Regions from separate parts of the Homo sapiens genome. Here all the other regions are reported to be linked to region 5. Evidence: microRNA targets listed by miRTarBase, many of them from high-throughput screens and not tested one by one. Region 5 holds a microRNA gene; each other region holds the end of a gene's coding sequence.
The links. The annotated mature microRNA hsa-miR-374a-3p reads CUUAUCAGAUUGUAUUGUAAUU and lies in region 5 at 2,529-2,550, shown strand. An mRNA with a match to its seed (bases 2 to 7 or 8) in the 3' UTR can be bound and repressed. Matches are read on the target gene's strand: a 7mer-m8 pairs with bases 2 to 8, a 7mer-A1 pairs with bases 2 to 7 and ends in A, and an 8mer does both.

Region 1: the mRNA of DTWD1 is a reported target of hsa-miR-374a-3p. Seed matches in the 3' UTR shown: 7mer-m8 at 1,390-1,396 and 8mer at 2,033-2,040.
Region 2: the mRNA of KPNA3 is a reported target of hsa-miR-374a-3p. Seed matches in the 3' UTR shown: 8mer at 2,133-2,140 and 7mer-A1 at 3,034-3,040.
Region 3: miRTarBase lists BLMH as a target of hsa-miR-374a-3p. Seed matches in the 3' UTR shown: 7mer-m8 at 3,936-3,942.
Region 4: miRTarBase lists GPR158 as a target of hsa-miR-374a-3p. Seed matches in the 3' UTR shown: 7mer-A1 at 2,822-2,828.
Region 6: the mRNA of VEGFB is a reported target of hsa-miR-374a-3p. Seed matches in the 3' UTR shown: 8mer at 3,356-3,363.

What each region holds. Positions count from the first base shown.
Region 1 is chr15:49,642,907-49,647,980 of GRCh38, forward strand. It overlaps DTWD1 (DTW motif tRNA-uridine aminocarboxypropyltransferase 1), which reads left to right. Exons shown (of 5, transcript NM_001144955.2): 5 at 425-5,074. The coding sequence ends at 672. Among named protein-coding and RNA genes, the nearest start is that of DTWD1, 24 kb to the left of the region's middle.
Region 2 is chr13:49,697,287-49,702,360 of GRCh38, reverse strand. It overlaps KPNA3 (karyopherin subunit alpha 3), which reads left to right. Exons shown (of 17, transcript NM_002267.4): 17 at 463-3,041. The coding sequence ends at 561. Among named protein-coding and RNA genes, the nearest start is that of EBPL, 8.3 kb to the right of the region's middle.
Region 3 is chr17:30,244,316-30,249,389 of GRCh38, forward strand. BLMH (bleomycin hydrolase) reads right to left here. Exons shown (of 12, transcript NM_000386.4): 12 at 3,888-4,853. The coding sequence ends at 4,702. The region is part of intron 2 of LOC105371720 (a long non-coding RNA gene); the gene reads left to right. Among named protein-coding and RNA genes, the nearest start is that of SLC6A4, 11 kb to the left of the region's middle. RefSeq lists an enhancer at 4,142-5,074.
Region 4 is chr10:25,598,826-25,603,899 of GRCh38, reverse strand. GPR158 (G protein-coupled receptor 158) reads right to left here. Exons shown (of 11, transcript NM_020752.3): 11 at 1,671-5,074. The coding sequence ends at 4,626. Among named protein-coding and RNA genes, the nearest start is that of LINC00836, 50 kb to the left of the region's middle.
Region 5 is chrX:74,284,771-74,289,844 of GRCh38, reverse strand. MIR374A (microRNA 374a) reads left to right here and starts at 2,488; the gene lies at 2,488-2,559. The region is part of intron 1 of FTX (FTX transcript, XIST regulator); the gene reads left to right. MIR545 (microRNA 545) reads left to right here and starts at 2,636; the gene lies at 2,636-2,741. It overlaps LOC124905199 (a long non-coding RNA gene), which reads left to right. Exons shown (of 2, transcript XR_007068266.1): 2 at 1-1,980.
Region 6 is chr11:64,237,068-64,242,129 of GRCh38, reverse strand. It overlaps VEGFB (vascular endothelial growth factor B), which reads right to left. Exons shown (of 7, transcript NM_003377.5): 5 at 4,908-4,943; 6 at 4,475-4,710; 7 at 2,866-3,774. The coding sequence ends at 4,497. FKBP2 (FKBP prolyl isomerase 2) reads right to left here and starts at 1,035. Exons shown (of 6, transcript NM_004470.4): 1 at 998-1,035. It overlaps LOC114841035, which reads right to left and starts at 1,035. Exons shown (of 6, transcript NM_001370414.1): 1 at 1-1,035. The coding sequence starts at 850. The coding sequence ends at 53. RefSeq lists silencers at 1-76, 107-1,126 and enhancers at 225-1,125, 1,407-1,526, 1,567-1,626, 1,126-2,028.

The DNA.
Region 1 (5,074 bases), not on the chromosome of region 5:
AGAGTGAGACCTCATCTCTAAATAAACAAAAAAGTCAGTTTGTCAAGGAAATGAAACCCTTCTGAAAATTGGTGAATGCAGTCCTGTCAGAGATTTAGATTTTTGAAGATGCTGATACATAGAAGATTGGAAGACATGAATATCTTAAATGTTAACTACTTTTAATTCATTGGTCTAAGACTCAGTGTTAACTGTCATGTATAAGATTTTATTATTTGTTTTATGTTGCTTCTGTATATACCTTGAGGTGTTTAAGAAAATATCTTGTTTCAAACTGGGATTGAAGGAAGTTATCTGCAGTCTTTAAAAAAAAATTCTTAGAATAATTAAGAGAAATCATTATTATTGTACCAAGCCTGTGGTTAAGAAGAAATATTTATATTTTTTCTTTCTTTCTTTCTTTTTTTTTTTTTTTTTTTGACAGGGTTGTTACAAGTTGAGTTGAAAACAAGAAAAACTTGCTTTTGGCGCCATCAAAAAGGAAAGCCAGATACTTTCCTTTCTACAATTGAAGCCATTTACTACTTTCTGGTAGACTACCATACTGATATATTAAAAGAGAAATACAGAGGGCAATATGACAATCTTTTATTTTTCTATTCTTTTATGTACCAGTTGATAAAGAATGCCAAATGCTCTGGAGATAAGGAAACAGGAAAACTTACACATTAGTTTTTAACAAGCCACTTATGTCTTTTTATTTTGCTAACATTAATAAACTTATATTTGTGCTTTGTTTTTTCTTAAGAAATAATCATATATAATGCCTGTAAGACCATTTGAAAAAATTCCAGTTTCATATATATCACTTCATATTTCTTGAAGGAAATTGTATCTGGGGGAATTTTTCAGAGATACTGTTGATTGAAAAACTTACTTCAGAAGTTATTTGCTCAGTGAAACCTCAGTTTCATTACTACATTTTAATATAGTGTGTTATGTCTCTGTGATTAGATATAACATATTCCATTAGATCTAATTAGCTATTTATTTCAACATCTTTATATCTTTTCACCTGTACTCATGACCACCTTTAGAAGTAAATGGGGTTACAATCTGCTGGCTGAAAAATAGGTCATAAGTGATTTTTCTTGAGGTTAGTAGCAAACATAGGCAGAACTAGAATTAGAATTCTGGTATCTAGGGCTGTTTCTTTAAGTCCTAAGGTTGTTAAAAGCAGAGACTCTGGAGCTAGACTACCTGAATCTAAATCTCAGCCTTTCTGCTTATCAGCCATGTCATTTTCTTCCATTTGTACAAAGCAGGCAATACTGAGCAACTACCTTATAGGAATAACTGAGTTAATATCTAAGGGGCTTTCAGCAGTACCTGAAATATAGTAAGTGTTACATATATGTTTACTCTTTTTATTTTATTTGGAATTGTGAACTGATAATAATTGAAGCCTACCTGCTAGTGGCCATCTCTGCTGCCAGGTGAAAAGAGCCTGACTTAGAATGAAGTCAGCGAAGGAAAGCAGAGTGGAGAGAAAAAGAGAGACTGAGTCCTGATGACATCATTTATTTACCTAGACCTAGCTGCTTGTGAATAGAGCCCTACTGTGCTGAATAGCTTCTGTCTGCTCTTTTCTATTCTGCTCCCTGCTCTGTGAGGTAGGTTCCTTTGCTCTCTTGCTTTTGGTTGGGTTCAACAAATGGGAAGCACCAGTGGGAGATTAGAAGTTGAGAGGAAAATGAAATGATGTTATTTATTTCCCTGGCTCCTTTCCTGCCATGTCATCATCAGTTGGCTGTGTTCCTCTACTAAATAGTACCTTATCAGGAATCCTATCTCTTCTGTTCCCAAGCAGTTACCCCAGTTACCTCACTAGGTTTAGTTCCTGCTCCCTCCCTTTACCCCTTTTCACTTAGGGTTGGTAATAGCTTACAGTTATTACTAGCCCCAGTATAGTTCACTACAACTTGTTGCTTTACCTAAACCCTGCTCATACATTTGTAAATACTGTAGTTGTTTTATTACACTCTTCTCAAATGTCCCCACTTGAAATAGCCTTCTATTTCTTTTGGGGACTCTGATAAATTCACCTGTTTGGGTGAAATAATAGCACATTTCCTGAAGTATATACAGTGGGACACATGATGTTTTATGGGGGAAAGAGTTCTTGGTGAAATTAGTTTGCTGTACATTACGTTGTTTCCCTCCCAGGGATTCAGAAGGCAAAACATATTAAAGGTTCTGAAAAGTCCTGAAATAAACATTTTGAACTTTATTTAAGCTGATATATCTTAAACTTACTTGAATATGTAGCACCTATTAACATGCCATGGAAATAGGACGTTTGGAGTATTGTAATTAAGAACAATTCCTATTAATATACATGGGGCAACTGAGAATTAAAGAGGTAAGTAAATTATTGATAGATCATACACCTAGTTAGTAGCAGAGCCTGTTCTAGAATCTGGAACTTCTGATTTGGTTTGGTTCAGTAAGGTCACCATTATATTATGCTATTCATAAAAAGGAATGTGGATTATATAAGGCTTGAACATTATTAGTCTTACAGTCTTAGCCAAATAAACTAACTGGCTTGCTTATTTTAGCAGTTATTCTACAAGAATGGAATTAAAATAGATTTTTTTTTTCATGTTTAGAACTTGGCCCTGGGAATAGAGGAAGGCTTGAATTGATTTAAGCAGGGCCAAAGTTGGATTTCTCTAGGCTAAATTTGGACTTCCCTGAGCCAAAATCTATTGCATTTAACTGGCTTTACAAACCAACTAAACATAACAGTTCAGAGGGAAAAGAAAAAAAAAAGCGAGAGACAGAGAACAATTCTATCACTCATTTGCCTCCATCTCTCAGCTGGCATAAGAAAGATGACCCACGTACTTCATAAGAGCCTAATTTACAGCTAAGGCCAGATAAAATCTCAGGTTCTTTTCAAAAGAAGTTAGTAATACCTATTAGAACAATGAATTGACTATACTTGTCTTAGTTTTTTTTGTTTGTTTTTTGTTTTTTGTTTTTTTGGTGTGATAGATGTAACAGTGGCCCTAATTCTTTATCCTTGCTTGTATTCATGGTCATTTTTCAGGTTCCTTTGAAGTACTCCCCCCACTGTGATTCTGGGTCATCTGCATTCAGAGATTTAGTGCATTTTTACTTACACTTGTGCTTCTGCTGTTGACATAAGAATATGCATGGCTGAGTTAGCCTGCTGGAGCATGAGACTCCATGGAACAGAGCCAGGTTGCCCTGGTCACCCTCACTGAATCTTGTCTAGATTGGCTGATGGCCAGCCAAACCCAAGATATGTGAATGATTCCAGCCAAGATCAGCAGAGTCATCTAACTGACACCTACCTGATTCCAAACATGTGAGCAAGGAATGTCTATTATGCCACCAATGTCTTATAGCTATTTATTGTGGCTATAGATATCTCATCTTTGGATGCATTATCAGATCATCTTCTTCAAGTACCTTAGAAGATTCTCAGTCTCATGTTTCTTGGGCTCTTGACCACTTGCTTTGCCTTAGCTACCACCTCATATAGTAACAGATTACCAGCAGGTTTGTATGATTCCTCTGCTTGAGATCAATTAGCCATATGTTCAGAATCCCTGGCCTATAACAACACTTCTGTGCTTTAAAAACCCCATGCCACAATGACTGTTAAAAGGGCTAGGCGATGTAGTCTGGTAGGTTTGTGAAGTTAACTGTCTGAAAAACTTGGATCAATGGACTAGAAAAAGCTGCTGGGTAAATTGCTCTTCTTCTGATGGACTGTATAGAGACACTGTTTTTCATCTTGCCTGTCCAGAAGCGTACTCTGTGGCCAAGCAAGTGTACTTGCCACATGATTGGCAGTGTCTCTTCATGGCTTTTCATGAAACAGCAGCAAGTGCTACACAGTAATTTATCAGTTTGCATTTGCCTCCCATTATTGCCAGCCTCACTTCCTTTCTTCCTCGCTCTTACCAGCCTGGATTGTACCTTTAATAAAGTAGTGGATATATTTCCTTTAGGGTCTCTTTTTCTAGGGAAGTCAGGTGTTTTAGTCTGGATTTAGTTAGAAAAGCAGCATCGTTACAAGTATTACATGAATAAAGAAGTTTAGTAAAGAAATTAAGGTTTACCCCAATGTGAGAATTACTGGGGTAATAAAGGTCTGGAAGGCTGCAGCAGAAGAGATTTAGAGAAGCAGTGACTAACTAGGTCAGCCGGAGATTCTCAAAGTACTCATGACTTCATTTGTAGAAACATGTATATCTTAAGCATATCAAGTGTCTCATTCCTCTAATCTTTCTAGGAGCCCTTTGGTTCATCCTGAAGGTCCCCCTAAATCCCTTCAGAAGTCTTAAAAAGGAGTAAATGGCCACACCTTTTATTTGTTCTTTTCTTTGAGGCCATGTTAATGGCAGTCCCTTGATTTGGTCTTTGTACTAGGCTGTTTTTAATGATCACATTTTATTTGATGAGAAACAATTTTATTTTCTAGTTCTGCATATCCTAGGTTATGTATTTCATTTCAGTTCCATTTCCATACCCATTGCCTTAATTTTGAGCTTGTCTGTTTCTTACATTTCTCATTTTGACAGAATAAGCTGACTGTTATTAAGTACAATAGATAAGGTACCTAAGAGCCTCGAAACATCACCAAATACCATGAATGCATTAGGTATATTTTTTGTCTTCCATGTTACTGGAAGCATTAATTATAGCAACTTTTTATCTCCAAATACTGACAATTAAAAGACCCTAGTGAAAACTTTAACCAAACACTTACTGACCCTACATTGAAGGCCACCAGCCAAAAATCACCACCCATACATAAGAGCCAAACATCACTAGACACTTGGTGAAATCCTTCAAATATAAAAGGGGAAAAGGAGGGGAGAAAATCCAAAGGAAATAGACAAACGGAGAATAATGGCAACAAAAAAAAAACTGTCTTCAAAATAAGAGTATATTATATTCACAAAACAAGAATAGGAGAGTGTGAAAAAGAACAAGCAATAAAAAAGATCTCAGAAATTTAAAAAGTGATTGCTGAAATAAAAATTAAATATAAGAGTTGAAGATAAAATATAGCATAAGAATAGAAAATTCTGAA
Region 2 (5,074 bases), not on the chromosome of region 5:
ATCTTCATGTAAATGAAAACCTATACATGATGTAAATTTACTAAGAGTTTTCCTTTTATTATTAGGATGACATAAGTTTGTACTGTATTTCTATTAGACATTCCATCAGTCACTTTCTCTTAAATACTTTGAAACTTCATTATAAGGTAAAGTTGTAAAAACAGTTCTTGTTTCATTTCTAATCTATTAACTAGGAAGAAATAGTAATTATATAAGTGATATATGTTCAGATAGGTTAAATAAATCTAGGTCCCAGATACAGAAACTTAACAATGCAGTTTCGAAACGTGTTAAATTTTAAATTGTTAAATTTCTTAATAAAATTATTGATTTACTCGAATATTTTTAGTTGGTTAAAGCATTCACATAGAATTATTTGCTAAGAGGTAAAAAGTCAATTCCACTTACATCATAATGTATAGTATCATAACCTAATAAGGATTTTTTTCTTGTTTTTTACAGATTGATGAAGATCCCTGCCTCATTCCTGAAGCAACACAAGGAGGTACCTACAATTTTGATCCAACAGCCAACCTTCAAACAAAAGAATTTAATTTTTAAATTCAGTTGAGTGCAGCATCTTTCCCACATTCAATATGAAGCACCACCAGATGGCTACCAAATGATAAGAACAACAGCAACAAAAGGCTCCAAAACACACATGCCTCTTTGTTTTGATGCTTCTAAAGCAAGCCATGTCTCAGTCACTTTGCAGTTGCCAAAAGTCACTATCACATGGACTGTAAATGCATATGCATGATTTCCTAAACTGTTTTAGAACTCTCCTTAACAATCTCAACTACCCTATTTTTCCCTGTTCCCTGGTGCCACAGGCTGACAACTGCAGTCTCCAGTTTAGAATAAATATTCCATAGTGGTGACATGTCAGCTGCCCACTGATACTCCTTTGGAAAATGGTGCGCTGTGGATCAAGACACTTTGGTATGATGCATATACAAGTTGGAAGACTAAAGAGGTGCAGTGTGATCTGAGCCTCCATCATTGTCCTCCACAAACATATTTTCATATTCTTTATGTGGAAGAATAGATTTTAAAGTACAAGCCAAATGATTTTCATTGGTGGAACTGACACAAAAAAAGTAACTTAAAAACAAGAAACTTGGTTATTGAATAAACAGATAAGTTTAAAAAAAAAAAAAAACTACTTCATCTACCAGTAATTGATGTGTTTATTATCTGCCTCAGAAGCCAGGGTTGGAGGAAGAACTTTAGATATGGATATTAATGCTTTTGCCATTATACCTAATTTTTGAGAACAGCAAGCCCTATTTGACCACTCTCTTCAGCCTGTGTGTTCCTGCTGTTTTGAAGTAATCAAATGCTGTGCATGGTATTTTACCTGAGCTGCAACCTGTTATGGACTTGAACTTCTGTTTAAGTTGAAAGCAAGAGTCCCTGAGTATAAAGGAAAAACAGCAAAACAAAAAGCAAACAAAAAAAAACTGCAAAAGTCTAAAATACCCATTGGTGATGTTTTTTAAAAAAATCTTGCTTTCAGCTTTCAGGAGTTAATATTCTTTGTTTTAATTTGATAATTGGATATGGTTGATTTATATTGGGTTTAAACTGTGGAGCTTTCATGTTTACTGTAATTTAGTCTTAAAATATTTTTTACTTAGTAACCAGTGCTTTTGATAATGTGGTTGGCAACAAACCAGCAACTATTTAGAAGTGTCATAAGAGTTCATTCTTTGAGTATTGGGAAAGTTAATTCAGATCCTACTCAAAAAGCATCTTCACATATTAAAAGATTCAGACAGGGATCTGTGTAGAGGAGTAATTTGCAGTTATTTAACATAAACCTGATTTGCAGTGATCTCTAAGTAATTCTGCAAAATCCGGTATTACTATGTCAAGTTATTGCTTTTGGTAAATTGTCTGACCCAGTTATTAATGAAAGAATATGGATTTAAAAATTTTTAAACTAAATAATTTGTGCTGTCACAGAAATGGTATTGTTGCTCTTGTTTACTGGGTATAATTTCCCAATGCATTGATGTGAAGGGATAGAAAATCTAAACTAATTTAGTTATCCATTGGGGGGTGTATTTACTGTGATGAAGATGAGACAGATGCCATCAGAGCTTTGTGAATCAGCTGGGGTGTTTTCACTGATAAACAACACATAGCAGGTGTGCATTCATTACAAATATATGTATCTGCCAAGGTGGAGCCACTTTAAAGAGTGAGTTTTGTCTTGTATCTAAAGTGGATACAAGCGTATGTTTAAACTGCAAGATTTTTACTTGCTAGAGAATCTGTTTTAATATAGTGGTTTGGCCTCTGATTATTTATAGGTTTTATAAATTTTAGAATCAATTTCTCTTTAAGGTGGCTCAGATTTTTCAACTCTTGTGCACATAAAATTGAGTTGAAGTTCATTGTGCCTTTTTTTCTTTATCCAAATTTTGAGTTAAAGCTTCATATGGTAACTGCATCCTGTTCGGACACTATAGTCTAAATTTTTGAAACTGTGTGGTGTTCGCTAAAAGTAGGAATAACAACGTAAAAGCTAATTAAGGTCACAAACTTCGGTGAAACCCTTAAAAGTCCAAATCTTCTTGATATTGTGAACCGTACCCCTTCCAGTTTAGTTTCTTCTGGACTTTCCTTACTTAACTGACAGTTACCTTTTAAAATTTGCACACATTATGATTAAAATTGGGCCTCTACTGTGATGATTCCTATTTCCTCTCATGTTTTAAAGTGCAAACTAACATTTAAGTGAACATTAGCATCAAGTAGTGCAGACACTTGTATGCATTTCCTTGATTCAATTTGTGACCTTACCAGTTTTGAATTGGAATTGCACCATTTCGTAGATAAAGGAAACTAAGTATATTGCTGCACTTTTAAGTTTTCAAAACAGTGTTTAAAAATTGCATTGTTATTTTTTTTTAAACTCAGTTTAAAAAGACTAAAACGTTCTTTCAAAAGAGGCATCTAAATGTGTTCCTAATTTTGTATATGGGCTTAGGTTTTGTAACCAATAAAAAAAGCTGCTATCAAATATGATAAAACATTGAAAACTTATTTCTGAAAATAACTTGTTTGTTTTCTGTATGGTTAAATTTAAATTTGGAATTATTTTTTTAAAAATCACAATGGAGGTAAATCATGAATTACTCTTTTACTGTATTTTAATATCTCCTTCACACCATATTACTGAACTAAACTGGAGTCTGTTCACCTGGCACAGTTAGGCCAAACATTCATAGCAAGGTTTTGCAGCAGGAAAAAGGAGGGCATTTATCTGCAGGCAGGGCACCAAACAAGAAAAATGAGGCAGCTCACACTTAAGACCCAACTTCCCTCATGGCTTTACAAGCAAGGGTTTTTAAAGGCAGGGGTGAATTTCAGGAAAGCATAAATTACAGGCAGAATTGTACATCAGTACACAATGGTTTGGCCTAGAAAGGTGGGCTGTCTTGAAGCCGAGGGTGGCAGGGGGTGACTTATAGGTCATAGGTGAATTCACAGATTTTCTTATTTGCAGTTGATTAAGGAATCAAAGCTTTGTCAAAAAACTTGGGGTCAGCAGAAAAGAATGCTAAGTCTGCCCCATGGGCGTGACTTCCTATAGGCCCCTCAGGAAGACATTTAGAACAAAGAATGGCAGTCAGAGCTCAGTCCTCAGTTCCCCCTTCCCTGGCCAGTGGACCATTTGGTGGGGGTCCAGGTGTCTGAAGAACAACTCAGGGACATATGTTAAGATGTTATCTTTAGTTTCTATAAGGAACCAAACATCCTGTGACTTCCTTGGCTGTTGTTTTAAGCTACTATTACTCTCTTGCTTATCAAGTTTCTTATTTATTCATAGGGCTAGCTAGGTGCCTGGAATTTCCCTTGAAGGAACTCAAAATTTTCCTTTATTTCCATGCTTGGTGGGGCACCTGGCAGGCCCTTAAGAGGGGTTCCTCTTCCATCTCAACTCTAACAAACCAGGATGATCGATAATAATGCTAGATTTGAGACTATTCTGTGACAAATAAGAATTGCCAAAATCTATATTAGTTTCCTAAGCTGCCATTACAAAGTACCACAAACCAGGTGGTTTCAGACAATAGAAATGTATTGTCATCCACTTCTGGAGACCAGAAGTCTGAAATCAAGGTGATGACTGAGCCATGCTCTGTCTGGGGACTTCGATGGGGATGATCCTTCCTTGCCTCTTCCTAGCTTCTGGTGGTTCCTGGCAATCCTTGGCATTCCTTGGCTTGTAGCTGCATCACTCCAGTCTCTGCCTCCGTCATCACATGGCATTCTCCCTATGTGTCTCAGGTTTAAATACTATAACTTAGAAAAAGTCCATTTATTTGAGATGATGGTATGATTGTGACTGATGAAACAAAAACTCAAACTTTAAGACCTGGCTACCCCTTGAAAACATGTAACTATGGAAAATAGTAATCAGAGCAAACCTAAAAGTTTTAACCTGTTAGGTAAAGTTTATGGCACTAAATGAAATCTTGCATTAACTAAAAGAACAAAGGAGCAGCCAAACTTTTGAGTATAGAAATGTTTACTTTTGTATAATGCCACTGCAAATTACTTTTAAAAGAAGTTGGTGTATAAGTAAATGTGATAGTACTCATACAATCTTGCCATCATTTCTTTCAGAAGGGTCATCCTGAAGGGCGTGGTTGGTGGCAGACACCTGTAGCTCCAGCTACTTGGGAGGCTGAGTCAGGAGGATCACTTGAGCCCAGGAGTTTGGGAGCAGCCTGGGCAACATAGCAAGACCCCATCTTTAAAAAAATTCTATTTTTATATGAAAAGAAAATTTTTTAAGAAGCGTCATTCATCCTTTTCAGGGGATTAGTTAATGCGGATAAACAAGTAAACAAGAGCACCTGACATTCATGAATGTCCGTTGTCTTACAGTGATGGTTAATTTTTTAAACCCTAGTTAAACTGGGAAAGTTTACTTAACTCTTTTTGGGGGAAAGGAAATATAATTTCTGTATATGAAGCTGTGAGTATAAATGTTGTTTAGATAGCTAAAAAACAGTGATAGAATGATTCTCCAAAAGTGCTATATACAATGTGTGGG
Region 3 (5,074 bases), not on the chromosome of region 5:
ATCCAGGAAAGATGATGTGGAGGGTTTCCCATCTGCACACAATCCTCTTTCCAAATAGCTACAGCTAGCCAGACGCAGTGGCTCACACTTGTAATACCAGCACTTTGGGAGGCCTAGGCGGGCAGATCAATTGAGGCCAGGAGTTCAAGACCAGCCTGGCCAACATGGCAAAACCTTGTCTATACTAAAAATACAAAAAAAAAAAAAAAATTAGCTGTGGTGGCGCATGTCTGTAATCCCAGCTACTCTGGAGGCTAAGGTGGGAGAATTGCTTGAACCCACGAAGTGGAGGCTGCAGTGAGCCGAGATCGTGCCACTGTACTCTGCACTCCAGCTTGGGTGACAGAATGAGACTCAAAAGAAAAGACAAAACAAAGACCAAATAGCTGCAGCTGTTGTGAATTGAACATTCCCCTATTTCCTTTCCCTCTGCAATAATGTGTAAAGGACTTGGAGTTTGAAAAAGAAAAACAGAAAAACCCGGCCAGTTTAATCCTAGTTTTCAACCCATTTGTGTCACAGACCCCAAGAAGGAAGCCATTGGCTTCATGAGTATCAACAACAGTTCTCAACAAGTTGTCCTAAATATGACCACGCTCATCTGGAATCACTTTAAAAAGTATCTAACTTAACAAATGACTAACTAGAGCCACCGTGGGCAATGGTGCTCACCCACACCACACTAGAGGAATAGGACTTCAAGTCCAAGTGCCCTGGTGCCACCAACAGCAACTTAGAATTAAGCTGCTCTTTAAGGACAAGCCAAAGCAAGCAGATGGGCCACACCACATCCTGAAGGCATGTCTCATTATCATGCCTTGGCTTCTTGGACGTGTAGGGTCACCATTACTCAGGCCAGGACTTCCCAGAGGCCAGTCATGAAGCTCTCCTCTGGTGACACTGTATGATTCACAGTTAAAGCAAAAGACAACTCCATGCCTTCCCATTTCCTACCTCATTCGTCACCCAAATACTAGCAGTTTCTTCCAACTGAGACCTCCAGCTACAACTTCAGCCCATTTCCCTAATCTTTAGCAGAGAAGATAAAACCACCATGCTTCATTTCTCCCCTCTGGATCCTAAGTTCATTTGAAAAATGGCTTTCATTAAGTATTTGGTAATGAAGATTATCTTTTTTACATATTGCTGCATTTGGTTTAGGATTTTTGCATCTATGTTTATGGGTGAGGTTTACATGTATTTTTTTCACTATCCTTATCAGGGTTATGCTAGCCTCATAAAATCATTCTTTAGGCCATAAAGTCGTTTTTTACGTCTTGCCTATTGAGCTAATCGAGTTGCTCCTGAGAAGACTTCCAATTTCCTGGCTACTAGAGTTCTAGCAGCCAAGGATGGCAAGAAGATTCAGAATGTAAATGCTCACTTAGGGGATTCACCTGACACCTAGACTACACACTTCTTCTCTCTCCAGAAAAGAAATCTCTAATGCACTGATGAATGGAGGAAGGGCATCACCAAGCCGGTCGGTATAGGAAGGGGACCCAACAGACATTCAACTCTTTGGTAACCCTCCCTTCACGCCCAATTCCAGAATGCTTTCTGTTGCTACCATATCTATGCTTTTCAGGGGATTATGCACTGTAAATTGATTTGCTTATCACTGGCTTTCTCCACCACTGGCTCAGTGAGATTCAACTTTTTCAGCTCTGCTAAATCTTCCAAGGTCTCCATCTGCTTTCTGGGTTCAAATATTTCATTGGCTCCTCTCCTGGTCTTCCCGAGCTTGTGGATTTGTCTTCTAAACAAATCCCTTTACTGTTGCTTTTGAGAAAGTTGAGAGTATCTTCTATTTTTCTAATATTTGCAGCATCTATAATATCCTTTTAATTCCCTGTGTACTTAAAAAAATTAATATTTGTCAATTTTTCTTTAAAAGAACCAACTTCTGGCTTCGTTGATGCTATGCTTAATTTCTGTGCATATCTACTTCCTTTAGGTTTATTTTGCTGTTCTAATTTCTTGAAACAGATGTTTAGCTCAATTTTCAGCCTTTATTACATCCTAGTATAACTTTGATATTTAGATTTAGAATTTACATTCTATTATTCAGAACTAATTAAAATTCTATAATCTTAATACATTAATGTAATAATTTAATGCTGTAAAACCTTTAAATTACTGTTGCAGCTGCATCCCTCGTTTTGACATATTTTTATTATTGTTCAGGTTAAATTTCCTTCATGATTTCTTCTTGGACCCATGAGTTAATTTCTAAACATACAGAGGTCGTCTTGTAATCTTTTAATTTTGGTTTCTAACTTAATTGCACTGTGGTTGGAGTGTGGTCTACGTGGTAACAACCCTTTCAAATTTGTTGAGATTGACTCTACCGTCCAGTATATGGTCGCTTTTTGAAAAAGTTCCATAGGTGATCAAAATGAATGTGCAGTTGTTAGATGCAATTTTTTTTTTAACAGGTTTATGCTCGGTCATTGGTTTCCACACATCTGTGCTTTCAGGATGAAGATGTGGTCTTCTAAACACGTCCATTTTACCAAACTTGCTAAATGTTTAAATCTCTTATATACTTTCCTGAATTTTTTGTTGCTTGGTCTACATGAAGCATATTAAAATCTCCCACTATGATGCTGGATTTCTTATTTTTCCATATAGCTGTTTTTGTTTTACATATTTTGAGGCAATGTTATTAGGTGCATAACTTAGAATCTTTGTTTTTCTGAAGAATTGGGTAAGCATATCATTATGTAGTGGTTCGATCTGTAGTAATGCTTTTTGTCTTAAAGCCTATTTCCAGGGCTGTGGTGTTCCACAGCTCCAGGGAGGACATTCACATTACAGTTTATGCAAATAAACTGAAATTAGACAGTCTGTTTCGTTACTTTGGAGTGGCCTTAATTCTGTGGGTTATGAGTATAACTTCTCAGTTTTATTTTGGTTAGTATCTGCCTGATGTATCTTTTCCATCCTTTCTTATATTGTAGGTTGCCTATGTCTCTCTCTTGTCATCACATATGGCTGGATTTCTTTTAAAAATACAGTTTGGCATTTTTTTTTTCGGGAACATTTAGTCCATTTACATATAATTATTGGCACATTTAGATTTCTCTCTACTATCTTGTTTTGGATGCTCTATTTGTCCTGCCTTTTCTTTACCCTATCTTGTCTTCTTGACTGATTGCATTTTTCCATTCTATTTATTCTTGATTGAAAACTGTATCCTCTGCTTATTTTTAGTAGATACTATAGAAGTTTTTGGCACAGGTTTACATACCAAAGTCTGAAGTTAAACAATGTATTTATCTTCTTCCTGAAAGACACAAGGATCTTAGAGTATGTTCATTCCAATTACCTCCCCTCCCTAGTTATCTGCTACCTTCATGGATTTTCGTTTTACCTTTTTTCCAACCCTGTTAAGACTCTTCTACAGTTGCTTTTTGTGTAGCTGACCAACATAACAATCATGTTCTTTATTCTACATTCCTTGATACATTTCAACCCTTCCATACTGATCACTTCCCTTCTGTTGGGGCAAATTCAGTTTTTTTTGTGAAAATGTTTTCTATTTTACCCTTGTTCTTGAAAGGGTGGCCCAATCTCAGTAAGATAACTTACTGACCTATTCTAAGGCTGGGCCCAACAGAGCCTCACTCCCCACCCTTGTAGGGACCCTGGATCTGGGTAGAACATTTATGCGGTAGGGGAACAGTCCTTCTTAAACAGGCGCTTGGAAGCCCTTTGCAGATGCCGGTGAGAATCGGCGGTCTGGGAAAGAGTACACATCTTGCAGAGAAGCTGAAGAGGGAAGCCCTTTTCCTGTTTTTTCACTTTCAAGAACATGAGCCACCTGGCTGCTTTCTTTTGTAGATAAACAAACACTTCTCAGACAGATCACATAAATCAGCTTATTCTCATTTAGCAAAGTTTTTATTCAAAAGCTTCTCAGCACCATCTAGTTATCAGAAAGAATGGATATCACCTTTTCCTGCCCACCCAATCCCCAGTTCCACAGGCAGAAGTTAAACCATTTGGCTAGAGTTCCCCCTAATGATTATGACTGAGACCATGATAAGATTTTGGTTGTTCTCACCCAACTGTCTCTAAGCCTCTACTCAAACCTGACTCAAGCAGAGATGTGCACACCCCACAGTTCAGAACAGGAAGGAATCATGTCAGATCTGATCAACCTCCCATTCTTGGGCTATTAGAGGCACAAGAAATTACCTTGAAAAAATGGAATTCAGTGACTGCCATCTAGGAAAGACAGTGATACTGTCCAGCAGCATGCAGTTCCGAGAGCTCAACTCTTAGGCCACCCTCCCTCCACTCTACTCTAGGAACAAGGAGCATTAGGTCTGTTTTCTCTCCATACACCTCAATCGCTCGTCCTCTCGTCTTATTAAAACACAGACACAGAACCAAACTTTTTGACAGTTAAAGACAAACAATTACATCTAATTAAAATGCTAAGAGATCCTGAGCTGTTAGAGATGAGGAGAGTAGATAGTATGACCTGATCTTCCCCCCTCTTTTTTTTCCTTTAACAGTATTCTGTTTCAGCATAAAGCACACTTTCTGAAGAGGTTCCTGGTGGAGACTGGAAATCTGACTGTGTCCTGTGGCAACACACAGTCCCTTGCATAACTTTGGCTTCAGTCCCTGGATCTGTCCTTTGCAGCTACGTCAGGTTCCATGGAAGGAGGAAAGAGCTGGAGGGCAGTATCACTCAGCCAAAGCTCCCATGGGGTCCCATGCTGGCAGGATAATGGGTTCCTGCTCTAACACAGCTAGCACCTCTTCAGGGACATGCTTCCTGTCCACCACCACTTCGTAGACATACTCAGAGAACCACTCATCTGTCATGCACAGGTAACCTGGAGAAAAGAACAGAAGACTTATGAGTCCAGAGGGCAAGGGACAAAGAGCAGAAACCCTTTTTGTAGGATAAACCTTTTACAAAACTAATATTCATACATATTTTTCAGCTTTCCCATCTGTAATTTCATTTAATCTAAATCTTATTAGCAATTCTGTGAAGCAGATAGGACAGGCATGGCTCTATTTTTAGAAAAATTAGAAAACCGGGTCTTGAGTA
Region 4 (5,074 bases), not on the chromosome of region 5:
TTCCTATATTTATCCCTTATTTTCCATGTTCATTTGATCAGACAGTTTTATTTCTGGCAATTTTCACATCACAGGGAAAGAGAGGGAAATTAAAAACCAATTCATACATTTCATTATCTGCCTTCTAGCCAGTTAACGCTGAATTAGAACACACAAGATGCTTGAACTTTGCCCTTGTACTTTCTAAGAATCAAAATGTTTAAAGAGAAAACAACCCAAATTAGAAAGACTTGATTGCTGTCTTTACAACTATTCAGGGGGAAAAGATGGAATATGCTGATATAAGAAAATCTTAACTAACTTGCATTGTTTTAGGACACCAGATTTTCATTATTAGTTTTTATGTGATAAAGCCTATTTCTGATTTCCCTTAGGTATTTTTTTAGCAGAAAGATTCTAAATTTAGAACAAAGAAACAATATATATGAAAAAATAATATAGCCAGACACAGGTCAACTAGGCAAGTCCAGCAATAACTGAAAATTCTGTAAGTGGCAATGGTATGAGCAGATGGGAAAAGGTAGTTGCTGTGCTTCATCCAAAGAAAGAGGGGTGCAGGGATAAGGTGGGGGACCAGCTCTCTCCCCTTCCCTCTTTTCAGGCCTGGTTGTCTTTCTAGAGCTCTTCTGAGCTGGTAGAAACTTCAGTCCACATTGCACATGCCCCAAGCGCCATCTTTCCCAGCCCAGTTTAGTACCAAGCTTTCCCATAGCAGGAACCTGGGATCCTGTTCATCAGCTTTTCTCGTGAACAGATGATATGAGGTCTACCAGTCTTCAGAAAGGGCTTTCGAGGCTTTTGAAATTAGCCAAAATGTCAATAAACTCAGAAAAAAATTTGTATTTGACAGTTATCTAAAGTAACCTGATTTTTCCCATTTCACATGCTTATAATAAAATAGTAAACCCAATTGGAGATGTGATTTTGATGAAATAAACACGAATCTTTCCATCTCCTCTTTAGGCTCTCATCTTCTCTCATCATGCCTCTCACACTAATCGTTTTTAGCTGCCTCTAGTCCCTTCCCGTTTCAGTTCATTTCAGGGCTGCTTCCAAAATGATCTAATTTTTGACTTCATTATGCCACTTTTAAAAGCTTCCCAATAGCTTCCAGTGCTCCAGGATGAAGCTGCAGTTAACCTGAAGCGTGGCGTGCAGTCTGTGCTCAGTTACTTCTCCAGCCTTACAACAGTTTCCCTTTGATACCTGTTTGTTGCCTTTGCAGATTTTCGGCCTGGTGACCCTGAACTCTCTAGTGAGACTTCCCTGACCTTAGTTATGCTCATCTGCATATTGTTATACCAGTGACTGGATACTCTCATGGGCCTGAGTGTTCCTGAAGGGGTTGTTTATCTTTGTATCATCACTCCTTAGCAGATTTCCTGGTACTGTGTGTGGAGTAAACAAGCAAAGAAAAAAGGTAGCTGAGTTAGTTCCCATTTGGGAAGAGACTTCTTAAATGAAAACCACAAATAGTTTTGATTGCCTCCAAATGATTACCTGTGTGTTTGAGGCCACATTTGGCTAATCACATATTCCTATAGACTGGCAATATGAGGATGTATGTGCACAAGGATACCAGAGCCAAACAAATATATGGAATTTCTTTTAAAGTTGGACAAAATAAATTCAGTTTTCTATAGATGAACACACAAATCCCCACAAATCACTTTCATATAAATATGTTTTATTGCAGAGAAGTTATAATTATTTACATGCTGCAACACGTCACAACATAAATTTACCAAATATTTCATGGTGGGATGCTGTAGGTTTCAGATAATAGTTTTAGGAGAACCACAGATTAAGTGAAGACACTTACAGCTTTATTGACTCTACGACTCTCGGTTGCTAAATGCTAGAAGTCAAAAGGCAGTGTTTTTTCAGTCCTACCTGTCATAACTTGCATGCAGAAACCTAGGAAGCAAATACAAGAGAACTGTCGAGTTTCAAATCCATATTGCCACCAAAGTTTACAATGGGTTGAGTTATACTTCATGTTGTAAAGCATTTAATTCTTGCATAAAATATACAATTCTATTAAGATTGGTATAAATCTACTTATTTATAAACCCTGGCTTAAAAACAAGGACAGGATGCAGCCTGCACATGCATTGAGAAGGACAACCTAGCAAATGTTTGCGACCTTAAAAGTGTTTATTCACTTTCTATGGTTATCAATCTGGAAAAATAACCTCCTGACTTGTAAATTTCAACTTCTCTTGTTGATAATGGCAATGAAACTCTCAGAAAGACTCTAGGCACTCTCACTGATTTATGCTGGTGGAGAATAATCTATGAACTATAGAATGTCGCTAAGATATAATTTGGCAAGTCTTTTTAACTCACATCTCTAGCAGGATCAATCCTGAAGTGCAATAGAAAGTCACTGATGCTTGACTGCATAATTCTCAAGAAAGGAATCAAGTGCTAACAGATTTCAGACATAAATGAAACAAATATGTGGGTCTAGGAACTTCCAACCCAGTTCACAAAGATTCCTTAAAGGAGGTCACCAAGCATATAGGCCTTCATTGAAAAGGAAGAGATAAAAGAAATAAATGGTGTAAAGACACAAAAATAGAATTTCTATATCTTCTCAAACCGACCCCACCAACCTGAGTAATGCATAAAGTCAGCAAATGGGTGAGGAAGATTTGCGCACAGCTTTGTGAAACAGTGAAGTGCTTGCTTACTCCTGAATAAAAAAATCACTGAGAAAAATTTGATGATGAATATGGAGAATTCTGTTTTTACCTTCCACTGAAAATACTCTCTAAGAACAGCCCTATATCCACCCTCTGATCCTGTTTCTCCATCTTTTATCACCCTAGCATGTCCTCCTTGCTGCTTGTGACATAAAAAATAGTTATTTGTGCTGGGAGTGTCCTGGCCAAATAAGCAGTTGATACTTGGGTGTTTACAGGGAGAAAAAGGGAAGTCTCGGTTCTATTTCTGAGTGATTCTTCTTTAAATGAAATGAGACTGAGCTTTGGAATCTCACTGCATGATCATGTCGGTAGGGCTTAGTCGGCAGCTTAGGATTCCCATGCCAAGAGATCAGTGTGGAATGCAATAAGCTTTATAAAATATGCTTTGGGGGCTGCTTTGCTTTGCAAATGGACCTTACATGTTACATGTCGAGCAAGTGGCTCACAATGGCAATTTGCAGGACTTAGACATTTTCCAGTGCTTGGGAGAATGAAGATTCCATACCACCTTATAGGTTTTGAATAAATAAGGTTATAAAACCTCTTTGGGATTTGAGCCCAGCAAGTTCTACCTGTAGCTGAAGCAATGAATAAGAGTTTATGAGAATAAATACTTTAAGGTATTTTAAAATACTGTATTTTCAGTACACATAATAAAAATATATCCATACAATGATCTTGATGCTACCATAATTTTTCTCTTTAAAAAAATAATCCCTTGAAAGTGCTATCAGGAGCTACCTGTGTTTTTTTTTGAAAGGCAAACTTCCTGGGTTTATAGTACTGCTATAATTCTTATGTCATCCCTAGAGTCTTCCCTTTCCAATAGTAATAATAATGCACGGTATATTTTTCTCACTCTTAGCTTCTTCCTTTGGAAATGCTGCTAAGTAGGAAATACTGAAAGAGTTAAAAGGGACAATTAATTGGAATGAAGGCGTTATCTATCTCTGACTTTGAATAAACAACGGATAAGTTGTCCTTAACTTATTGAGACATATGACTAAGTAGGACCACTTGATCTCCAATATTAATAAAGCTTCTGAGTCCTAACAAGAAGTGCAAAACAAGTAACTCAACTTGTATAAAAAACCCTGATTAAGACAGTATAACAAACCATGATGTGAAATAATAGAGTCAAATTCAAAGTCACAATATATAAACCACAGCCAAAACTAAAAGTTTTTATAGTAACAGTTATGGCTTCCCAAGCCAGAGAAAGCTTACTGTACTTCAAGAATCAACTAAAGTTGATAGATAGCAGGTATTCTGTAAGGTGCAATAACAATTGAATAGCTGCAGATTGCATAAATGTGTTGTGTCACATAATACCAAAGTTATTTGCAAAAATTATACAATCTGGAATGCTTGAATATGAGACACAACGATATACTGAAACATACATTTATAAGAAAATGAGAGCAATCATTAATATAAAAGATATTTTTGGGATGCATTAAGTTAGCAGTGCTATCAAGGTTAAATAGGTAAAGTAAGTTCTTCTCGGTCAGCTACTTAGAATTTCAGTTATATATGTCTTATACCTTTTCTTTCTTTGCAAATCTGGTACGTCTTCTGTGTCTCCTGGTTTACCTGGCTTAGGATCTTCAAAGTCCCATGGATACATATTGATCAGGGCAGACATTGTGGGCTATTTTCCTTAAACATGCTGAAATGGAAAGATTTTCCTAGTGTTACCAAGGGAAGGACTTTCTTGACCAAAGTCTGACTTCTCCATTATGACGTTGTTGCTCTTGCCCCCCTGGTCCTCTTCTACCCATGCCTTTGACTTTACCTCACCATCTGTCATGTTTTCCTTGATTGACAAATCCTCCTTGGGAATATTTGATTCTTATATCTTCTGTCTCATATCCAATCCGGGGTTCCCTCCTTTTCCTCTTCTTCCTGGAGATGCTACACTTTAAAACTATCCCAGATCTCTTCTTTCCTAGGCCCTGCTATCTTATTTGCACTTAGAGCAGAAGAGGCAGGTAAAGCTACACTTCTTCCAGCATTTGGTTGAGCTGGGGTCTCAAACTCCCAAGGACAAACCTCTGCTCGTGATGTTAAAGGTTGCTGGAAGTTATTACTTGAGTTATAGGAGCCACGCACATTCTCCTCAGAAGAAGATGTCTTTTTTTCCTGGTGTCCTATTTGGTTGAGATTTTCATTCTCTGTTTTTGATGCTACAGCTTTGGGGGGCAGTTCTTCGCTCTGCCCAGCACACACATTGGCTGCACGAGGCTGACCTCCGTTCTCCTCTTTTGCCCTCTCTGGGAGAACTGGAGTCTTGGAAATCAAAAGCTTCTCATCTTCCAAAATGGACTGGCCTTGGCTCTCCCAAAGGCATACTTCAGCCTTAT
Region 5 (5,074 bases):
TACATTTATTCACTTCATTCTCTGCATTTTTCTTTGCAGTTGATAATATATGTGTACTATTTTATATTGTGTTTTGTTTTTAACATTATAACATGCGCATGTCCATGTTAAACATTCTTTGTAATTGTCATTGTTTCATGATGTTCTGTTGTATGGAAGTATTTTACAGATTTTCAGTATTTTAAATTATGTAATGAATATCTTTTCATTTGGTTTTTATTATTTATTTTGGGTTGTTTATCGAAGAGACTTCTAGAATTAGTTATTTGTCAAAAGATTTGAACATTATAAAGAATTGGCATATTTACTTTTCAAAAAATTAATGTCAGTTTTTGTACCCAGTCATTTAGGTACTTATAAAAAATGTTTTTGCTTTTTTTTTTTTTGCTGACTCCATATGTAAATGAATGAATGATATCTCTGTGGGGTTTTTTTGTTTTTGTTTTTTTCTGAGACAGGCTCTCCCCCTGTCGCCTAGGCTGGAGTACAGTGGCGTGATCATGGCTCACTGAAGCCTCAACTTCCAGGGCTCCAGAGATCCTCCTACCTCAGCCTCCTGAGTAGCGGGAGTACAGGTGTGTGCCACCATGTCCAGCTAATTTTTAAATTTTTTTGTAGAGATGGAGTTTTGCCATGTTGCTCAGGCTTGTCTTGAACTCCTGGGCTCAAGTGATTTTCCCACCCCGGCTTCCCAAAATGCTGGGATTACAGGGGTGAGCCACCATACCTGGCCGATATCTTTGTTTTGTGATACAGTTCTCTGATTATTAGTGAGGCTGGACTTTTAGATCTTAATTACTAGCTCTTATTTCCTTTTGTGAATTATTCAATTTGTGCCTGAATGTTATTTGTAAGTTGCAAATGTCGTTTGTTGCAGATATGCTCCCAGTAATATTTGTTGCCATTGAGTCTGAAGAAATGTTTGCAATTCCAAATATAACTGCTGTGTGGATACATGTCTGGTTCTTGGTAGCCATTTTGAGATAACATTTGTCTGACCTCTATCTTATTTTTGTTTTTATTTTTAGAGTGGAGGTCTTGCCCAGGCTGGTCTCGAACTCCTGGGCTCAAGCAATCTTTCTGCCTCCGCCTCCCAAAGTGCTGGGATTACAGGCATAAGCCACCTTACCCAGCCTTGTCTGACCTTTAAACAGAAATCCATTTCTTTTTATCTAAAAGGAAAGCACTTTTGAGTACTGTACAACAGTGGTGCTTCCTGGCTCTGGGCATGGGGAGAAGACAGGGCAACATTTTGTCCCTAATGAGAAACTAATTTAGACAAGAAACAAAACAGCGGTCCCTTCTCCCCCATCCATTCAGGGACTGGTCTTATTTTAAATATTTCTGAGTGGTCTGAGGGAGGATATGGGCAATATTGAAGTGTCCACATTTATACATACTGTTAAATGCTTTGGGGATGTGAAATGCTAATAGGAACACGCTAGCATGTGAGAAGGCACCAGGAGTGGGCTAATTGGCAGAAAGGAACAGTGTATAGGCAAGAGCAGTGAAATAACTTTAGGGGAAAATAGTATGTTAAGCTTATTAAATAACAGCCTCATAGAGACATTGGGTCCCAAAACAGTGATCTCAGTATAACTGTCAACAACTTGCTGATGTTATCAGCCCTATTTGCTGGTCAGAGACAAAAAAGCCAGTAAAAACCTAGGTATTATTAAGAAAGGTATGAGGCACAGAAAAATGCCATCTTATCTTTGTATAAAACCATCTGAACCAAATAACTATTACAGTAATAATCTTGCCTCAAGGAGTCTGTTACTATCACTCACATGATTTTGAAAAGGGAGTGGGCAGAGTGTGTTATCTCTCTGTTTCATTTTTCTTGTTTATAATACATAGGTGAATTAGATATTCTCAAAGGTCTTGGAGGGGTCTAATTCTGGTTTCCTGAAACTGAATGTTATTTCTAGTTTAGAGAATCTGTTTAATTATGTTTATTAAATAAACTTTTCTAACTTATTCCTACTCTGATCTGTATATTATCTATTTTGTATTTAATAACATTCTAACTTTTTTTTTCCAGTGAAGGATGAGGATTATTGGATTTAGAAGTGCCAAATGAGCTATTACTTACTGCTTTTTGCTATCCGGTTACACTGGGTTAATCCAGTTAGTTGTAAGCTCCCATTTTTCAGCATTTTGCTAGCTGTAGATATTAAACCAGGCTCATGTGGGTAGTAGGGTGGGGAGGTTAAGAGGAGTATAAGCAAAAAGGAAAAAAAAAAGCTCATATTTTAGAGGAGGGGATTGAGAAGTTCCTTTATTGGAAGTCTGTGCATGGAAGTCCCATTTTACATCATGCCAGTGTCTAGTTCCCAATTCCGTCTATGGCCACGGGTTAGGGAAAGCCTGAATATTTGAAATAACCGAAAAGCATTTAACCTTTGATTTCTATAATTTGTTCCTCACCTCTCTTGATGTTACAGCCAGCAGCAGCCTGGAGCAGCACCCCCTGGGAAGAAATTTTACATCGGCCATTATAATACAACCTGATAAGTGTTATAGCACTTATCAGATTGTATTGTAATTGTCTGTGTATATGCCTGTCTCTCTTCCTGTTATCAGTTAGACTGTGAGCTCCTTGAGGGCAAGGAAGGTGTCTTCATCTCCAGAGCCCAGCCTGGCACATTAGTAGGCCTCAGTAAATGTTTATTAGATGAATAAATGAATGACTCATCAGCAAACATTTATTGTGTGCCTGCTAAAGTGAGCTCCACAGGCTCTGGATTGTCAGCTGTTTCTTCAAAAAGCATGTGGTCAGAAATTTGATATTTCTGTATATATCTTCCTAAGAGTTTCTCATGAGACAATGCCATTTTTGTGTTTGGATTTCAGTCCTTGATATTTACAGATGTTGCAACTGTTGCTATTGCTGACACTTGCTTTCTTGGTGGGACTTGAGTGATAACTGTTAGATTGGGGCCTCATCCTCAGGGCCCAGGTAATCATCCAAATAGTATTCTTAGATAGGACTTTGCATTTTTCTTTCTTTTTTTTTTTTTTTTAAGGGACAGGTTCTCACTCTGTTGCCCAGGCTGGAGTGCAATGGTGCGAACACGGGTCACTGCAGCCTCGAACTCCTAGGCTCAGGTGATCTTCCACCTCAGCATTCTGAGTTAGGACTATAGGTGTGTGCCACCACCCCTGGCTAATGTTTGTATTTTTCGTAGAGAAGGGGTCTCGTTATGGTGCCCAGGCTGTTCTTGAACTCCTGGACTCAAGCGATCTACCTCCCTCAGCCTCCCAGAGTGCTGGGATTACAGGTGTGAGCCACTGCACCCAACCAGACTCCATATTCTAAACCAAGGGTGGGCAAACTTTATTGCCCATGGGCTACCTGTTTTTGTAAATACCATTCTATATTGGAACACAGCCATGTTCATTCATCGATGTTTTACCTGGGGCCGCTTTTGCGGCCCAGTGGCACAATTAAGTAGCTATTAGGTTGGTGCAAAAGTAGTTGCTGTTTTTGCCATTAAATATATTGGAGACATTGTGGCCCACAAAGCCTTTGTAGAAAAAGATCTGTGCCCACTCTGGATCATCACTCGACAGTGATGGTTTCATTTCTCATTCCATTCACCAGACCAGAAATTCATATTTATTTACTTCATTTGTCATTGCTTGTGACAAGTCTTTTTCCTCTTTTACAGATAAGCCAGCTAAGACATGTTTTAAAGTAGAAGATTATAAGACCTCCCCCAGGGTCCTGCAGTCAGTCAGTTATACCCTGCCCTTCAACATCAAGCTTTGAACCTCTACTCTAGAAATACCTTTTATTATATTCAAACTTGAAGCACGTGGACATAGCATGCTTTGGTGCCTTCGTCCTTGCCCCCCTCCTTCCTACACAGTTCTTTGCAATGAGAATATGGGAAATAAGGACTTAATGTGAGATAAGGCAGAAAGGTAAGCTGAGGCAAATGTTTAGAGGGTCCCTAACACTAATTTTTAAATGAAGAAGTGGGGTGTCTGAAATACTCATTTATTTAGATGTATACAGATAGTGAGCCTAGACTTCCAAGAGCTTAGAGCCCCTCCCCTTGTGCCTCCCCAACTTTACATGTACTATCTTGGTAACCTGCCTATGAATACATGTTGATTCATTTCACTTCATTAAAAAGTCGGAGAGCTCAAAGTCATATTTGAGAAAGCTAAATCTAAAACAAAATGGAGGAAACACTGAATAGGTTCATCTCGTTGGATAGGATCATCCTAGGAATAAAATATAATAGAAGGAAAGGTCTTACAGCCATATTTTTAAAGCTGCTTGCTGGATTTTTCCCAAAATTGTATTGTGAAAGTTGTCAAACATACATACAGAAAAGTTGAAAGAATTGTACGGTGAAAAGCCATGTACCCAACACCTAGATTTTATAATTAACATTTAACTATACAGTCATGTGTTGCTTAAAGACAGGATATGTTCTGAGTAATGGATCATTAAGTCATTTTGTTGTTGTGTGAACATCATAGGGGAGTGTACTTATACAAACCTAGATGGTATAGCTTACTACACACCTAGGCTATATGGTATAGCCTATTCCTCCTAGGCTACAAACCTGTACAGCATGTTGCTGTATTGAATACTGTAGGCATTTGGAATACAGTGGTAAGTATTTGTATATCCAAACATATCTAACATAGAAAAGGTACAGTAAAAACGTGGTGTTATTATCTTATGGGACCACCATTGTATATGCGCCTGTGACTGAAATGTTACTATAAGATTCAGGACTGTTTGTGTTATCACAGTAACTCATCTTTGTTGAATAGGTTTTAAAAATCTGTCTGTCTTCTGTGTTAATGTCATCTGTATCTGACCCATCATGGTGCTGAAAAAGCTTCTTTTCATTCTTATTTTTGTCTTCTAAGTCAGCATGAATACCAGCACAGCCCAACTATGTGTAAGCAGATCTGTGCAGGAATGAGAGTCCCAGGGAGAGAATCCACGTTGTTTCTGAAAGAAAATGGCTATAGCTCACTGTTGTTTACTGGAAATAGTAGGGGGAAGGAAAGATGGAAGTCCAGGTCCAGTGTCATATACTGCCCT
Region 6 (5,062 bases), not on the chromosome of region 5:
CCCTTTGCTCACCCCCATACCTTCCCTCCCTCCCAGTCCCCACCTCCGCTCTTCAGTTCCCGCCTGTCCCTTTACGCAAAGTCCAGACCCTATCTGGCTGCACTGCAGTTGCCCCGACTGGGCGGCCCCACTCACGCCACACCCAGCTGCCCCCGGTCCAGCACACCAACACCTCTGCGGCCGCTGCAGGGGGCCGGCCCCGAGGCACCCACACATCCCCACTGGGTGGCTCCGAGGAGCCCGGGTCCTCGGGAGATACCCCCCAGCCTGGCCCTGTGCTTCCGCCCGGGGCGCCGCCCCAACTCTGAGCCCTTGGGGGTCTCCGGGGCACCCAGACTGGCCCTGTGTCTGCTGGCCGCCGAGCCCGCTCCACCCACACCACCTCTCCCGGTGGAGTTCTCGGCCTACGGCGTCCCCAAGCCCGGCCACCACGGAGACCACCCCCGCGAGGACGCCCGGGGCCATTACTCGGGCCAGGCTCCTCACTTGGCTCCTTGGCACCGCCCTTCGGAGGACGCGGTACCGCCCCCGGGCCTGCAGCCCCGCCTTCGACAGAACTAGACCCCTTTTCCGGAGCCGTAGCCACGCCACTCACCGGCTGAAGCCCCGCCCCCAGCGCCTCCGCTCCGTCCCCCTCTGCTTCCGACCCCGAGGCTCCGCCTTTCACCTCCTCCAGCTCCTCCTTCAAGAGCCAGGCTCCGTCCCCCGACCCTCCTAGCTCCGCCCCCCGCCGCCGGGCTCCGCCTTCCACTGGCACCAGCTCGGAGGTCCCACCCGTCCCGGTTCCACGTCCCGCCCCGAGTCCCAGGACTCCGCCCCGTGCGGCGTGAGAACCCTCCCCCTGCGGCATCTCCGGACAGCTCCGGCCCCCACCCCCAATTTCCTCGTCACCTAGCTCTCGTTGACACTCGGAGCCCGGTCCGCTTCTGCCCGGCCTGATCCAGCCTGCCCTCTTGCACCCCGGCTCCCCCCAGCCCGGGCTGTGGCCCCCGCTCACCTCCTCGCCGCGCCCCCGGAGTCAACCCCGGTGGTGCTGCCGCCTCTGCGCAGGCGCGTCCTCGTCGCTACCAGGCCGGGCCACGCCGCCCTCCCTTATTGGACCGTGCGAAACCCGCGGCCACACGCCCGCTGGCACGGGTCTTTCCCGAGCCCCGCCCCCGCGACGCCGCTGCCCTGCGTCACTTCCGGCGGAGCGGTAGTCTGTAAGGTTAGGTGAAAGTGACTTCCGAAAAGGCCGGAGACACTTCCGGCCGAGGTGATAGTAAGGTCAGGCGGGCGTGGGTTCCCGGAGGGGGTCTTGAGGCGCCATTTCAAGTCGCCCCCAGCCTCTCCCACAGCACTCCTGTTTTCCCGGGCCTCATCATGGCCCACGGCCCTCAGTCGCTGTGGAGCCTGGGCTTCACAGTGACACTCACGTTTGAACTCCCGGTCGGCTGTGTGCTTGGTAGAATTTGTCATCCAATACAGGCGTGTAACACGGGCTTGATGACACCCACCCCACAGGGCCCCTGCAGGACCGAGATGATGTCCAATGACAAGCCCTGGCTTCCAGCCAATGCTCCTGCCCACATCTCTCTCCCAGGAGCCAGGCTTACCTCTACCTGTGCACCTGGGCTGTGACTCATGACTGGAATGATCTGGCTGGGCCTGTTCCCCCACCAGACTTATTTTCAGGCGCCCCAGCAGCCACCAAACATCTGTCAACTGAAGTAATGAACCTGCAGTTGAGAGGCAGCTAAACCTAGGTTGAAGGTTAGGGAGACAGCTGAGTTGAGGTCAAATCCCCCCGGCCAGTTAGCCTTTCTGAGCCTATTTCCTCAATTGTAAAAGGAAGACAATCATGATGCTGACCTCAGAATCGAGCGAGGAGAAAGTGAGGAGGTGCATGTGAAGCATTGTGCGTGACTGGTGGGGCTAACTGGGCTCTGGAGGCGGTAGCTCTGGGGCCCTAACCCCTTTCTGCCTCATGCTAATTGACCTATGGCATGTCCAGTGACATCATGACTGAGAAAATGATTTGAAAGTAGTAATCGCTGTCAGGAATTGTCTCCTGGTTCAACCCACTCCTGCCTTAGGCCCACTAAGATCATACCCACATGCTCTGACCCAACACCTCAGAGAAAGCCTCCATTAGGGTGGCTGCCCCTCCCAGTGGCTGCCCAATTGAGTTAACTCTGCCCCTGAATGTCCTGCTTCAGCAGGCAAAGCAGTGGTGCCCAAGGTTGGCCTTTCATCCACCCCAAACCACTCAGCCCTGGGCACTGGAGGCTGCAGGGAGAAGGGTAGGGGCTGGGCTTGGGCTAGGATAGACAAGTCAGGAGAATCTCAGGCAGCAACTGATGATGAAGGAAGCTGCAGGATGCAAGGGAGGCGAGGGTGGAGAAAACTGTGTGGGTTGGGCGGGCGCGGTGGCTCACGCCTCTAATCTCAGCACTTTGGGAGGCTGAGGCAGGTGGTTCACCCAAGGTCAGGAGTTCGAGACCAGCCTGGCCAACATGGTGAAACCCGTCTCTACTAAAAATGCAAAAATTAGCTGGGCATGGTGGTGGGCACCTGTAATCCTAGCTACTTGGGAGACTGAGGCAGGAGAATCGCTTGAACCCAGGAGATGGAGGTTGCAGTGAGTGGAGATTGTGCCATTGCACTCCAGCCTGGGTGACAGAGTGAGACTCTGTCCAAAAACAAAAAAAAAAACAAAAAACTGTGGGTTGGGTTGAGGGGAGCCTGCCGCCCAAACCAGGCCCACCAGCCCCAGACTTGCGGTGCTTCCCTTTCAGGGAGGTGGGAGTGAAGTTAAGACAGGGCAGGTGCTGAGGCTTTAGATTCAAGCTGCAGGGAACAAAAAGCAGCAGATGCTGAAAGCGCTGCCTGGCAGGAAGAACAAGTGTTCTTTTCTATTACGTAAAGATAGTCTCAAACTTCTCTGGGGCCCGAGGACGCCAACCACAGCAATCTTCTGTTCCCTCTATGTGCACATGTGGAAACTGCTGCTCAGAGAGGCAGGGGTAGTGACAAGCAAGGTCACTCAGTAGATCTGGGTCCTACCCCAAGCTCTCTGGCCACAGAAGGCTGTCTCCTTCTAGAAAAGAACCCTGGTGAAGAGCAGGAGGGCAGGCAGTCTGTATTGACTGGGCTATCCCTGACTCCCATGCGTGGCAATAACTTGAAAGTGATGAATACATAATTCTGGCCCTGCCTGGGATCTGCTGTGGGGCCTTAGTCCTCATTTCCTCCATCTGCACAATGAGGGAGCAAGACAAGCTCTGGATTTAGTGATGCAGACATTCATGCCCAAACCAGCCAGCCTGGACAGTGACAAACAGTGACACAGGCAGGGACAGCTCCTTCCATCTCTTTTATCAGGGTTGGGGGTCACAGTTCTTGTACCAAAGCCCAAATCCCATTATGCAGAGGTTTGGGTCTTCTTAGTGAGGGGAGGAAGAGCCAGTTGTAAGATGCTTACTTGCACAGAGTGGTTAGAAACTGAGACAGTACTCCATTCTCCCCTGAGCTGGTATGTGACCCCTCTTGCTGCCTCCCAGTCTCCTCTTCCAACTCTGTCCTGTTTGATGATGGCCTCAGGGAGACAAGGGATGGCAGAAGAGCCCTCTGAGAGGCCCAGGTCCTAGAGCAGCTTCTGCCTGGGCTGAGGTCTTGGGGGCTTGGCTGTTTTTTACCAGGCTCCTCTTTGTTCCCCCACTGGGATATAGCCTCTGAGGCAAGTCACCCTGCTGAGTCTGAAAAGCCATGTGTCACCTTCGCAGCTTCCGGCACCTGAGGAGGGAGGAAGTGATCTGTTCATGCTGGCTGGAGCGCAGCCCCAGCCCTGGACTCATGTGTGCCTCGGGCCCACTAAGATCACAACCTGAGCATCCTGCCACACCACTCGGCCCTGGGCACTGGAGGCTGCAGGGCGAAGGATGAACCTTTTGCAAAGGTCATCCCCTCCTGACACTCCTCGGGAGCCCCCACTGGCCCTGCCCATATGATTTCACCCCATGGCCTCACTGCGGGACACGGATGGTGAGAAACACATCAGGTAAGGGTGGACAAGGGTTCCACTATGTCCCCTGGCCTCTTGAAGCCCGTAGGTAAGGGCAGATGTCTACCACAGGGGCTTCTGGGAAGGCCCGAACTGCAAGCTGGAAAAGCTGTGTCCTACATTTCTACTCCGGGCAGATGTCACCTCCTCCAAGAGATCTCTGACCTCTGAAAGACGAGGCCAGGTACCCCTCACCACAGCCCTTGACATCCTCTGCTGGCATTGTCCCTCCTGTATCTGACTCCTGAGTTAGAATGTTGGACTTGCTTATACAGCTCCAGGTGCCAGCAGCTGTTTGGTAAATATTTGTTCAACACATTCAACAGTTTCCCCTTCCCTGGCCCTCCTCCTACTGGCAGGCTCACCCTGGACCTGCTCCAGGACAGGGCCTTGGTGCCTTCCCAAACAAACACCACCCCACAGACGCCTCACCTGCAGGTGTCTGGGTTGAGCTCTAAGCCCCGCCCTTGGCAACGGAGGAAGCTGCGGCGTCGGCAGCGGCAGCGGCAGGTCCGGGGGTCAGGGCGCTGGTGGTGCTGGGTGCAGCGTGGGCAGAGGGGCCTGGGGCTGGAGTGGGATGGGTGATGTCAGCTGGGGAGGGTGCTCCGGGGGCAGAGTCCCAGCCCGGAACAGAACGGGGCTGGGGACGGTGGTGGGGAGTGGCAGCCCTAGGGAGGAGAAGCGACATGTCTGGGGTGGGAAGGAAGAGTCTTCCCTAGAGCTGGGGTCGGGGCAGAGAACACAGGCTTGGGGAGCAGAGGAAAAGGGAAAGTGGGGGACGGGTGGGAGGAGAAAGAGGAGCAACAGCTTCTGGACTCACTTGTACTCCCCATACCCCTACTCAGCTGGAGTCCAAAAGACTCACCTGTCTGGCTTCACAGCACTGTCCTTTTTTTTAGGTCTGAAAAGTAAGATAGACAGACACAGACAAACAAGAGGAAGATCAGGAAATCCCAGCATCCTACTCTCTCTCTCTCTCTCTCTCTCTCTCTCTCTCTCTCTTTGAGACTGTGTTTCCCT